Linked DNA regions of Homo sapiens: regions 1 and 3 are each reported to be linked to region 2. The links are microRNA targets in miRTarBase. Many come from high-throughput screens and were not tested one by one. Region 2 holds a microRNA gene; each other region holds the end of a gene's coding sequence.

Region 1 (3,246 bases), not on the chromosome of region 2:
AGAGAGGACTCAGTCCTGGTGAGGCTCACGGGGAGCTCCAGGCTAGGGACAGAGAGAGGGAAGGGTGGGGTCTGCGGGACGGGGTGGACAGGGGTGGAAGGCGCAGGCTGGGGAAGTTCCCAGACAGCAAGGGACAGCCGGACCAGGGGTGTTCCTAGACAGGGGGCAAAGGCCGGGAGGTTTGGAGCTGAAGGCCAGGTCTGGGAAGGGCTGGAATGTCAGGAGGTGTGGCCAGAGAGGCCCCCCAGGGCTGGGTCAAGCCAGGCCTGTATCACCTGCCAGCCCAAGGTACCCTGCGGAGTCCTAGGTCCTCCCAGTCGGCCTGGTGATCTCCCTGCAGCAAGCCACACAGATGTGAGACTCCAGGAAGGGGAGCAGGTGGGTGTGGCAGAGTGGGAGTCCCCGACTCCTGTGGCTGGGGAGAGCTGGTGGTCGCGTCTCCCCCATACTGGCAGGTCCTGAGGGGGCCAGGGTCCTGCCCAGGCCACGAAGCAGGCAGGCAGGCCCTCGCCCCACACCCTAAGGGACTTCCGGCCTTGGGTACCAGGAAGTGGCTGGGCTCCTCCCTCCCACCCTGGCTGCTTCCTGCCCACCCGGCAGCCGGGGAAGGAGCGTGGGAAATTCTCAGGGCCCTGACCCCTGCCCCACCCCCTCTTCGGGGCCTTGGGACCCAGGTCAGTCCCTCTGACTCCCTGAGCTGACATCCCACCCCAGGAACCCTCCCAACCAAGGCCAGATCCCCCCACTAGGCGAGCAGGCGGGAGTCAATGTGTGTTTCATTTTCTGTTTATTACTTGAAATCACGGTGCTCGTGTAGGTTTTTTTTTTTTTTTCAATTTTATGTTTTCATACATGAAACTCACGCCAGGTGCCGGGACCCCCACAGCCCGACCCCCCGAGGGCGGGTAATGCTTTCTTGGGCAGCCCTTACCGGGCAGAGGGTGGCGAGCCGGTTCCTGCCTGGAGGTTCCACCCTCAACCAGTGGAGGCACAGACGTTATTTAAAAATCGTTAAAAAACAAAACAGAACACACATTTAAATAGGTATCCAAGACAGTTCTTCAAAAAACAAACCCGCCCCTTTTACTCCTTTTTTTTCTATTTTTTTTTCTTTTTTTTTTGGAAAAATGAAAACAAAACAAAACCCAAAATCCTTGAGCTCTACCCTCTGGGACCCCTCCCTGCCCACCCTCCCACAAAAAAATTTACAGCGCTACAGTTATAACACGTGATGTTCACATCTGAAACCATTAACTTTCAACACATAAAGGGGGGGAGTTGAGGACCTGGGGTTCACCTACGAGAACAACGGTGGGGGACAGGCAGAGCCAGGACAAGACCGACAGGTGGGGTGAGGAAGGGTCCAGACATCTCCATTATCATTAAAAAATAAAAAGTGAGTGGGGAAAAAAATCCAAAAACTACCCCATTGAAATGGCCCCAGTAGGGGATTTGTCCCTCCCCTCTGGAGACAGACACCCCTAGGGCAGGGGCACTGAGAGGCAGGGGGTCCAAATTAGACCAGCAGCGGACCCCGCCACGGGGGTTAATGCTACACGGAGTTGTCGCCCCCTGCCCAGGGGATTCACAGCTCAGCACCCCCTCCCATCCTCGCTGCAGGAGGGGCCCCCAGACAGTCCCAAATCCACATCCCTCAGGTTGGGCCGGGAAGGAGGGCTCGGAGGGGGGAACTCCCCAGCACCCAGCCATTCTCTCCCCTTTTTCAAGAGTTCCCCAACCACTATTGGCTCAGTCAGAAAATTAATAGTCTATAAATACCCCAAACTCAGGCAGGAGGTCAGAAAACACGGGAGTGGGGGCGGAGGAAACAGCACAGTCCGCCGGCTGGGGCGGGGCGGAGGGCAGGCTGGGGGGGTAGTTCCCCTCTCCCTTCCCGACAGGAAAGGGTGCCATGCCCCTGCACCCAAACCCCATGGGGACCTCAGCCCCAGCCTCTGCTAAAACAGCTTTGCTCTCCTTGTTAAAGAAATGAAGGAAAATGCAAAAAAAAGATCAAGAAAAGAGGATAGGAGTGGAAGAGAAACAGTCCCCTCGTTGGCTTCTGTGACCTGTTGGCTTGCTGTAGCCCAGTGGGCGCTGCTGGCCTGGGGTGGAGACCCCGAAGTCTGCACTGGGGGGTGGGGTGGGTTCTGCGCACTGCGGCCCCTCCCCTCATCTGTAAAGTGCATAATGACATATCGACATTTTTGACTTAAAACCTGAATAGGGTCGGGGGGGAAAGGAGGCGGCGGAAGGGATGGGGCGCGTTTCTCCGTCTCCTTCACTCTCCGCCATCCAGAGAGACTGCTACATATTGGAGCTGGGGAAGGTTGGCAGGGAGGACCGACCTGGCGCAGAGGTGAAAGGAGACAGACGGAGGAGGAGGAGGAGGAGGAAGAGGAGGGCAGGAGTGAAGGGTGAAGGAGGTAGGAAGCAAAGCCCATGAAGAGTCCAGGAAACCACGGTCAGAACTTTTTAAAAAAAGAAAAAAATAATAAAAAAGAAGAAAAGAAAAAAAGACTTCTGGCTGGGGGAGTGGCCGCCTGCCCTCCAGGGCTGGGCCACGTTCTCTCCGGGGCTCTCGGAGTCCCCGCCGCCCTGGGCTGGGGTGCGAGGGGCGAGGGTGGCCGATCCGAAGATCCTAAGCCACCACGAACTCTGACTTGATGTCAGGGTTGACTTCTGGCTTCCACACGGAGTCCTCGAAGTCGAGGCCCAAGCCGGAGGCCTCGCTGGGGCTGCCGCCGCCCCCGCTGCTACTGCTGTCGCTGCGGCCGGCCTTGCGGCTGGGTGACCAGTGGTACGGACCCCGCGCGTCCCGCCGGGCCTTTCTACGGAGCCGTTTCTGCTGCAGAAGCAGCTGCAGCCGTTCCACCTTGCAGCGCGTGGCGCGGTTTTCTGTCTGCCGAAGCCGGTCCCCTGCAAAGGAGGTAGTGGCCTGTGACTCCCAAAGCCTCCACCTGCTGAACACAGAGGACCACCCCAGACCCCAGCAAATGCCCCTGAGGTCAGACACAGTCCTGCCCTCCCTGGAGGGAGGTCAGCAAAGGAAACAGTCAAGGACATCCACCATGCCGGGCACAGTGGTTCACGCCTGTAATCTCAGCACTTTGGGAGGCCGAGGCAGGAGAATCGCTTGAGCTCAGGAGTTCGAGACAGGCCTGGGCAACCTCAGGAGTTCGAGACAGGCCTGAGCCACAGAGCGAGACCCCTCCTCTACAAAAATTACAAAATTAGCTGGGCATG
Region 2 (3,204 bases):
TGGGCGAGGGAGAGCGTGGGTCCCCAGGAACGGGGGAGGTGGTGCGGCTGGCTTTAGGATGCCCATTCTGGAACCTTCTGGTGGAAGAAAGCAGGGGATCAGTATAGTATGGTTGATCCACACACTCCAGACCCTCTCCTGGCTGTGCAGCTGGTCTGATCTGGGCTCAGAGGCTGCCACTGCTCAGTGCTCCCCTGGGTAATTTTGCAGGAGGCCAGGAGGGTTCCTGGCAGTTAGTGCCACCCACACGGAGAAATTCAGAGCCATATAAACGGGTCTCCAGGGCCTGGAGGGACTGCACATCCTGGGCCTGCGGCGCAGTGTAGACCTGGGAGGATGGGCGGCCTGCTGCTGGCTGCTTTTCTGGCTTTGGTCTCGGTGCCCAGGGCCCAGGCCGTGTGGTTGGGAAGACTGGACCCTGAGCAGGTACAGTCCTCCTGGGGGTGGGGAGAGCTGGTCCTCGGGGGCCAGCCCCTCCTTTAAGGCCACACAGCTTCTGGGCCCCCCAGGGCTAGCCCAGACCAGCATGAGCAGTGGGGAATTAGTTGGGCCAGCCCTTGGGGAGTCCCACAGGCAGGAGCCTCAGGGCAGGAGGGGTGGATGCTGGAGGGTTGGAGGCTGGAGGGCTGGAGAATTGGAGGCTGGAGACTGGAGGTTGCAGGGCTGGAGGGTGTAGGGTTGGAGAACTGGAGGCTGGAGGGCTGGAGGCTGTAGGGCTGGAGAACTGGAGGCTGGAGGCTGCTGGGCTGGAGGCTGGAGGGCTGTAGAACTGGAGGCTGGAGGGCTGGAGGCTGGAGGGCTGCAGAACTGGAGGCTGGAGGGCTGGAGAGCTGGAGACTAGAGGCTGCAGGGCTGCAGGCTGGAGGTTGGAAGGCTGGAGGGCTGGAGCCTAGAGGCTGTAGGGCTGGAAGGCTGGAGGCTGGAGGGTTGGAGGTCTGGGGGGTTGGAAGCTGGAGGCTGGAGGGCTGGAGAACTGAAGGCTAGAGGCTGCAAGGCTGGAAGGTTGGAGGCTGGAGGGCGGGAGGGTTGGAGACTGGAGGCTGGAGGGCTGGATGGTTGGAGGGTGGAGGCTGGAGGCTGCAGGGCTGGAAGGCTGGAGGCTGGAGGGTTGGAGGCTGGAGGCTGGAGGGCTGGATGGTTGGAGGGTGGAGGCTGAGGCTGGAGGTTTGGAGGCTGGAGGCTGAGGCTGGAGGGTTGGAGGCTGGAGGCTGGAGGCTGGAGGGCTGGCGGCCCTAACGGGAGCCGCCTCAATGCAGCTTCTTGGGCCCTGGTACGTGCTTGCGGTGGCCTCCCGGGAAAAGGGCTTTGCCATGGAGAAGGACATGAAGAACGTCGTGGGGGTGGTGGTGACCCTCACTCCAGAAAACAACCTGCGGACGCTGTCCTCTCAGCACGGGTGAGTGGGCGGGTCCTGCCAGGCCTTCCCGCAGGCAGGACTGTGGCTCAGCCACATCATGTACTTTGCACATCTGCTCCCGGGCACCGCGGCCTGGGGGCTTCCCACGGCCCCTCTGCACCCCCGTCACTTTTCCCACTGGGCTCTGTGCAGAGCCACCAGCCCTCTGCCCAGCTACTCACATCTGTGTCCCTGGGGCCTCCAGGTGGCACTCCCACCTTCAATACCGCGGCGGGCACTGCTCTGACTATGCTCCTTCATGCATCCCTGTCCTGGGTCATCTGGGCTGCAGGCTGTGGTCAGAGCTGGGGAAGCCTGTCCTCTCAGCAGGCCTTTTTCGGGAATTCTGTTTAAAGGAGGATAATGCATTCGGACCTAAGAACCACTGGTTCTTTCATAACATAAATCCCCAAACAATATGGTCATGGACGCTGTTGGCCAGACTGGCCTTGTGGCCTCAGGCAGGCGCACCCGACCACATGCATGGCTGGTGGCGGCGTGCAGGGGTCGGGTGGGCCAGGCTGTGGGGCGGCCGTGCTACACAGGGGACACCTACAGGGCAGCCGGGCTGTGGGGGTAGCCGTGCTGGGGCAGGAGTCGGTGCCCGCCTCCCTTCACAGAAGAGTGGCCTGCTGGGTGGCGTGGTGGGTGTCTACCCCCTGGCAGGCTGGCGACAGAGCCCAGGCCTGAACCACTGAGCCAGGTACGGGGCCCAGAGAGAAGAACCTGCCCTCCTCACCAGCGTGCCTTCCCCCTGCACCTGCGCCTGCAGGGTATGGGCAGGGGCCCCACTGCACCCCCCGGGCCAGGCCTGGCCTCAGGGCGAGCTGGGACCAAGGGGCTCCAGGCTGAGGTGGCAGCTCCCACGTGGCTTTCCTAGTTCTTCTTGCTGTTCCTCCCGCATGGACTCAGCCTCAGTTTCCTTCCTTGGCAAACACCATTGCACCTTTGCTGGGTTTTGCTCACTCTGGGGACTGACCACTTAGGGAGCGCCGGCCCCTTCCCCCGAGTCGCAGGCAAACCCCCACCCCGCCCCATCCTTCCCCTGAGTCGCAGGCGAACCCCCACCCCACCCCATCCTTCCCCTGAGTCACGGGCGAACCCCCACCCCGCCCCATCCTTCCCCTGAGTTGCGGGCGAACCCCCACCCCGCCCCATCCTTCCCCTGAGTCACGGGCGAACCCCCACCCCACCCCATCTTTCCCCCGAGTCGCGGGCGAACCTCCCGTCTGTCGAGTCTCCTGTTGTGTCCTCAGCAGCATTCAGCGTTCCTGGTGGAGATCTGGCACTGAGGATCTCTCAGGAAGTGAATGGGAGTGTCCGCCCCTCTCAGGACTCCCACGCCGTCCACTCTCCGAGAACAGGTTTCCGGGCATCGGGGCATCTGGCAGAAGATGGAAGCTCTGGCCTCACTGCTGGCTGGCCTGGCCTGGACTCCTGAGCTCCGTCTCCTCTCACCGGGCCCCGGGGTCTTGACCCTGAGTGGGTGACAGGCCCCTTCTTTTCCAGGCTGGGAGGGTGTGACCAGAGTGTCATGGACCTGATAAAGCGAAACTCCGGATGGGTGTTTGAGAATCCCTGTGAGTCTGACGGCCACGGCCTCACCCAGGCCGTTCTTCCCTGCAGCATCCCCAGGCCCCCTGCGGGCAGGGACGGAGGGCTGACTCCGCTCCCGAGAGCCAGGAGGCTACAGGTTCTGGTCTTGGGATTGCTGCCCATCCTGAGGGTGAAGAGAAGCCCCTGGACAGAGGATTGGAACCTTGTTCCCAGCAGGCTCAGACACCAGTGAGGTCCAGCCAAGGTCCCCA
Region 3 (3,246 bases), not on the chromosome of region 2:
AGAATATTATTTGGCTGTTCTGTGGCATCGATATAGGTCATGATAGTGACAATAGTGTCTGTCATTGTATTCCACACCACTTCTTCCCTCAGCTAAAGCAGGAAAAGAAAGGAGGTAAGTCTCTCTGTGTTTTTTCTTCCTTTCCCCAAGCCCACTTTGTTACCTTCCTTGGTTGCTGGATGAGAAATTAGTCAGAGGGTCAGAGAGGACCTCAACTTCATATGCTTTAAATAGAGCATATGCAATTTTAAACCATCCTCTTAACCAATTTTTCTTTTCTTTTCAGTTTTTCCCCAGTTATACTTCCACATGATACACCAGAGAAGAAAGATCCTTTCTCATACTGAAGAACACAAGAAATTTGAATAGTTCCTGCTTTCTGCACCTCCCACCAAAACAAACTTTTCAATGATCAAAAAATGCTGCAGATTTTTTGAGTTCCCAATACGTTTCATAGAAAATAAGTAAGAACTATTTTTAAAATATTCAAACAAAACTAAAACAAAAATCCAGTGTCACATGGGCCTGAGATTTTATTTTAGAAAAAGGTTGTTACATAAAACACCCTGGCCAGTTCATTTCAGCATGCTCTTTCAACCAGAAGTTCTTAATATTTATGATGGCACTAGAAAGGGATTTGGCATTTTATGTCCTTCTGTGTCCTTCATGTATCTGATCAATGAAGACCTGTAACACTAAGTACTTGAGAGTTACAGTCTGAATAATGAAGTCGTACCAGCTGAATAGCCCAGCTTGCAGTATAGTTATGTTTCAGTCTGCAGTGTGTTTAGCATTCCCTTGTCAAAGTGCTTGACTGCATGCTGGAAACTTTGTATTTTTGAAGCGGCAAACTCTGTTCTCTGGAATGCTCTGAAGTTATGGCTGGGACCTATCCCCTCACATCTAATGAATGAATTATAAAATGTATATGTCTATGAAGCTTCGGGGTAGTGCCTGTAATCAGAAAACAACTTAGAACCCTTTTGTTTGTTTCCAATTGAGTCATTACTGCCTGCCACTAAGAAACGTGCTTGAATCTAATAAGTATGTGTGTACCGTAAAGAATATATCTTATCTGGAGCTCAGCCTCAATCATGTCTTAACAAAATGACAGGTCTCAGAAAGGGGGAGCTCAATAGCTCAAAAGTGACAAGTCCTTTTCACAGCACCATTCTCAGAACACCTCTGAGTAACGTGTTTGCCAGTAGCTATTCTCACTGATGCACTGATGGCCCTGAAGAAGCGGATCCAGTCACATAGGAAAGGAGGCTGTGTTAGTGAAAGCACATGGAAGGTGTTGCTTTAGAAAGGTAGTCAGGAAAAACATTCAGGAATAGATTTATACACCATTATTGTTTTATTTTTAAATTTTCATTCACTCTTCTGTTTGGATACTTTTGCTAATTAACTTCCTATGTTAATTTCCACCAAGCTATAAGTCCATAGTCAGTAAAACATTCCCCTTGGGCTGTCATGAGCTAAAAGCAGTGTCATCTCCGCATGTTGGAGCAGCCAAGAAATAGTTTGGTACTACCGACATTGTCTAATCCATGTCACATCCTCATACAATTTAATTGCTCAACCATGCATTTAAAACTCCTCAAGAAAGGATTGGTACTGCAACTGTAGGTAAACTGAAAAAAAATAAGAAAGAAAGAGTTGGATGAAAATGTGAAAGCCCAAGTTTAGATGTGCATTAAGTATTAAATAGCACAGTATCTTCTTCATGGAGCCTTTTTTCCTCCCCCATCCCCTGCAGCTGCCTTTTTTTGGGGGCAGGGTGGGGGTTGATGTTGAACTTTAAGAGTTTAAAAGTTTAGCTTATTGAGTAGTTGTCATTTAAAATATAATTGCGAATATCAGAAAACTCATACTGGAAAACTAAATTTTTTTTTTCTCTTGAGACGGAGTCTCGCTCTGTTGCCCAGGCTGGAGTGCAGTGGCGCGATCTCAGCTCACTGCAAGCTCCACCTCCCGGGTTCACGCCATCCTCCTGCCTCAGCCTCCTGAGTAGCTGGGACTACAGGTGCCTGCCACCACACCCAGCTAATTTTTTTTGTATTTTTAGTAGAGACGGGGTTTCACCGTGTTAGCCAGGATGGTCTTGATCTCCTGACCTCGTGATCCACCCGCCTCAGCCTCCCAAAGTGCTGGGATTGCAGGCATGAGCCACTGCACCCAACCCCTGGAAAACTAAATTTTTAAGTGCTTATTTTTATAGAAGTTTGAAAATTTAATGCAGGCAGGTGTGTAATAAATTATTTTTGAATTGAACATTAAAATTCTGCTTCTTAAAGTCAGCACTCAACTTGGACATGTTGAAATTAGAATCTATTCTTGTATTTGATAGACAAAATATGTGGGAAAGATTTTTTGCATGACTTTTCTCTCATTTTATTCTTCCATAATGTATTTCTACTATAAAATAGAATCAACTTGGGTTATATTTGTCATTTACTTTGTTCTGTTAGATTTTTTCAGTTGTTTTTGGAAAAATTCTAGAAATCAGGATGAAAAATGCAGCTTTTCCAGGGTTGCTGGACTGGGGGTTTTATTTGGGCCTCCTTATTATAATTTGTCACTACTTATAAAAAACATTCTGTTGCAAACAGTGGTGTTGCATTGAATTGAACTTTGGCAATGAGAACACAGCACACAGCTCCCTTTTCAAAAAGGGTCTCAACCCCAGTGTGTATTTTTGTACATCAACATTTAGAATACTTATGGCAGATAAGTAAGGCATGTCACTGTGTCCTTCAGTAACCTCTCTCAGTAACTGGTTTCTTTATCCCTAACATGAATTCATTTCTCCTTTGAAGTCATTTATTATTTTATAAATTGAGAACAACCACACCACCAAATGTCACACCTTCTTATAAAGTGTGAACAAGGAAGGTCATGTTTTTGTGGGTATTTTGTCAGACTTAGAGGTTTCATTTCAGGGCATAGTCAAAGGCATCATCCTCCCAACTACCCACTTGATTATGTATTTCAGATCCCTCCGTGGGGGCCTTCTTCTGACAGAGAATTCTTTGAGGTCCGCAGTAGTGCTTTTGTCAGCACAGACTGCTAATCTACATCTTGCTGCGTTCTGTTTGCTGAGGTTGGGCTTATTCATTTAACACATACCAACCATTATCCAGAGGCACCATGGAGAGTTAGTCATGGAATAAAGCACTGTCCTTGCAGATGAAAAAAGTCTCCAGAGCAGACTTCTGACAGGAAAGGTTTAGATGCTGGAGAGTT

Evidence for each region. The annotated mature microRNA hsa-miR-6722-3p reads UGCAGGGGUCGGGUGGGCCAGG and lies in region 2 at 1,896-1,917, shown strand. An mRNA with a match to its seed (bases 2 to 7 or 8) in the 3' UTR can be bound and repressed. Matches are read on the target gene's strand: a 7mer-m8 pairs with bases 2 to 8, a 7mer-A1 pairs with bases 2 to 7 and ends in A, and an 8mer does both.
Region 1: the mRNA of MIDN is a reported target of hsa-miR-6722-3p. Seed matches in the 3' UTR shown: 7mer-m8 at 1,503-1,509 and 7mer-m8 at 1,487-1,493.
Region 3: miRTarBase lists HACD2 as a target of hsa-miR-6722-3p. Seed matches in the 3' UTR shown: 8mer at 1,751-1,758.

Annotation. Positions count from the first base shown.
Region 1 is chr19:1,256,668-1,259,913 of GRCh38, reverse strand. It overlaps MIDN (midnolin), which reads right to left. Exons shown (of 9, transcript NM_001388306.1): 9 at 771-2,919. The coding sequence ends at 2,642. Among named protein-coding and RNA genes, the nearest start is that of MIDN, 9.7 kb to the right of the region's middle. RefSeq lists enhancers at 194-353, 774-923.
Region 2 is chr9:136,745,616-136,748,819 of GRCh38, reverse strand. MIR6722 (microRNA 6722) reads left to right here and starts at 1,850; the gene lies at 1,850-1,927. LCN6 (lipocalin 6) reads left to right here and starts at 295. Exons shown (of 7, transcript NM_198946.3): 1 at 295-426; 2 at 1,257-1,396; 3 at 2,906-2,976. The coding sequence starts at 337. LOC100128593 (a long non-coding RNA gene) reads right to left here and starts at 2,659. Exons shown (of 3, transcript NR_033913.1): 1 at 2,619-2,659; 2 at 248-1,742; 3 at 1-74.
Region 3 is chr3:123,492,011-123,495,256 of GRCh38, reverse strand. HACD2 (3-hydroxyacyl-CoA dehydratase 2) reads left to right here. Exons shown (of 7, transcript NM_198402.5): 7 at 287-3,246. The coding sequence ends at 369. Among named protein-coding and RNA genes, the nearest start is that of ADCY5, 45 kb to the right of the region's middle.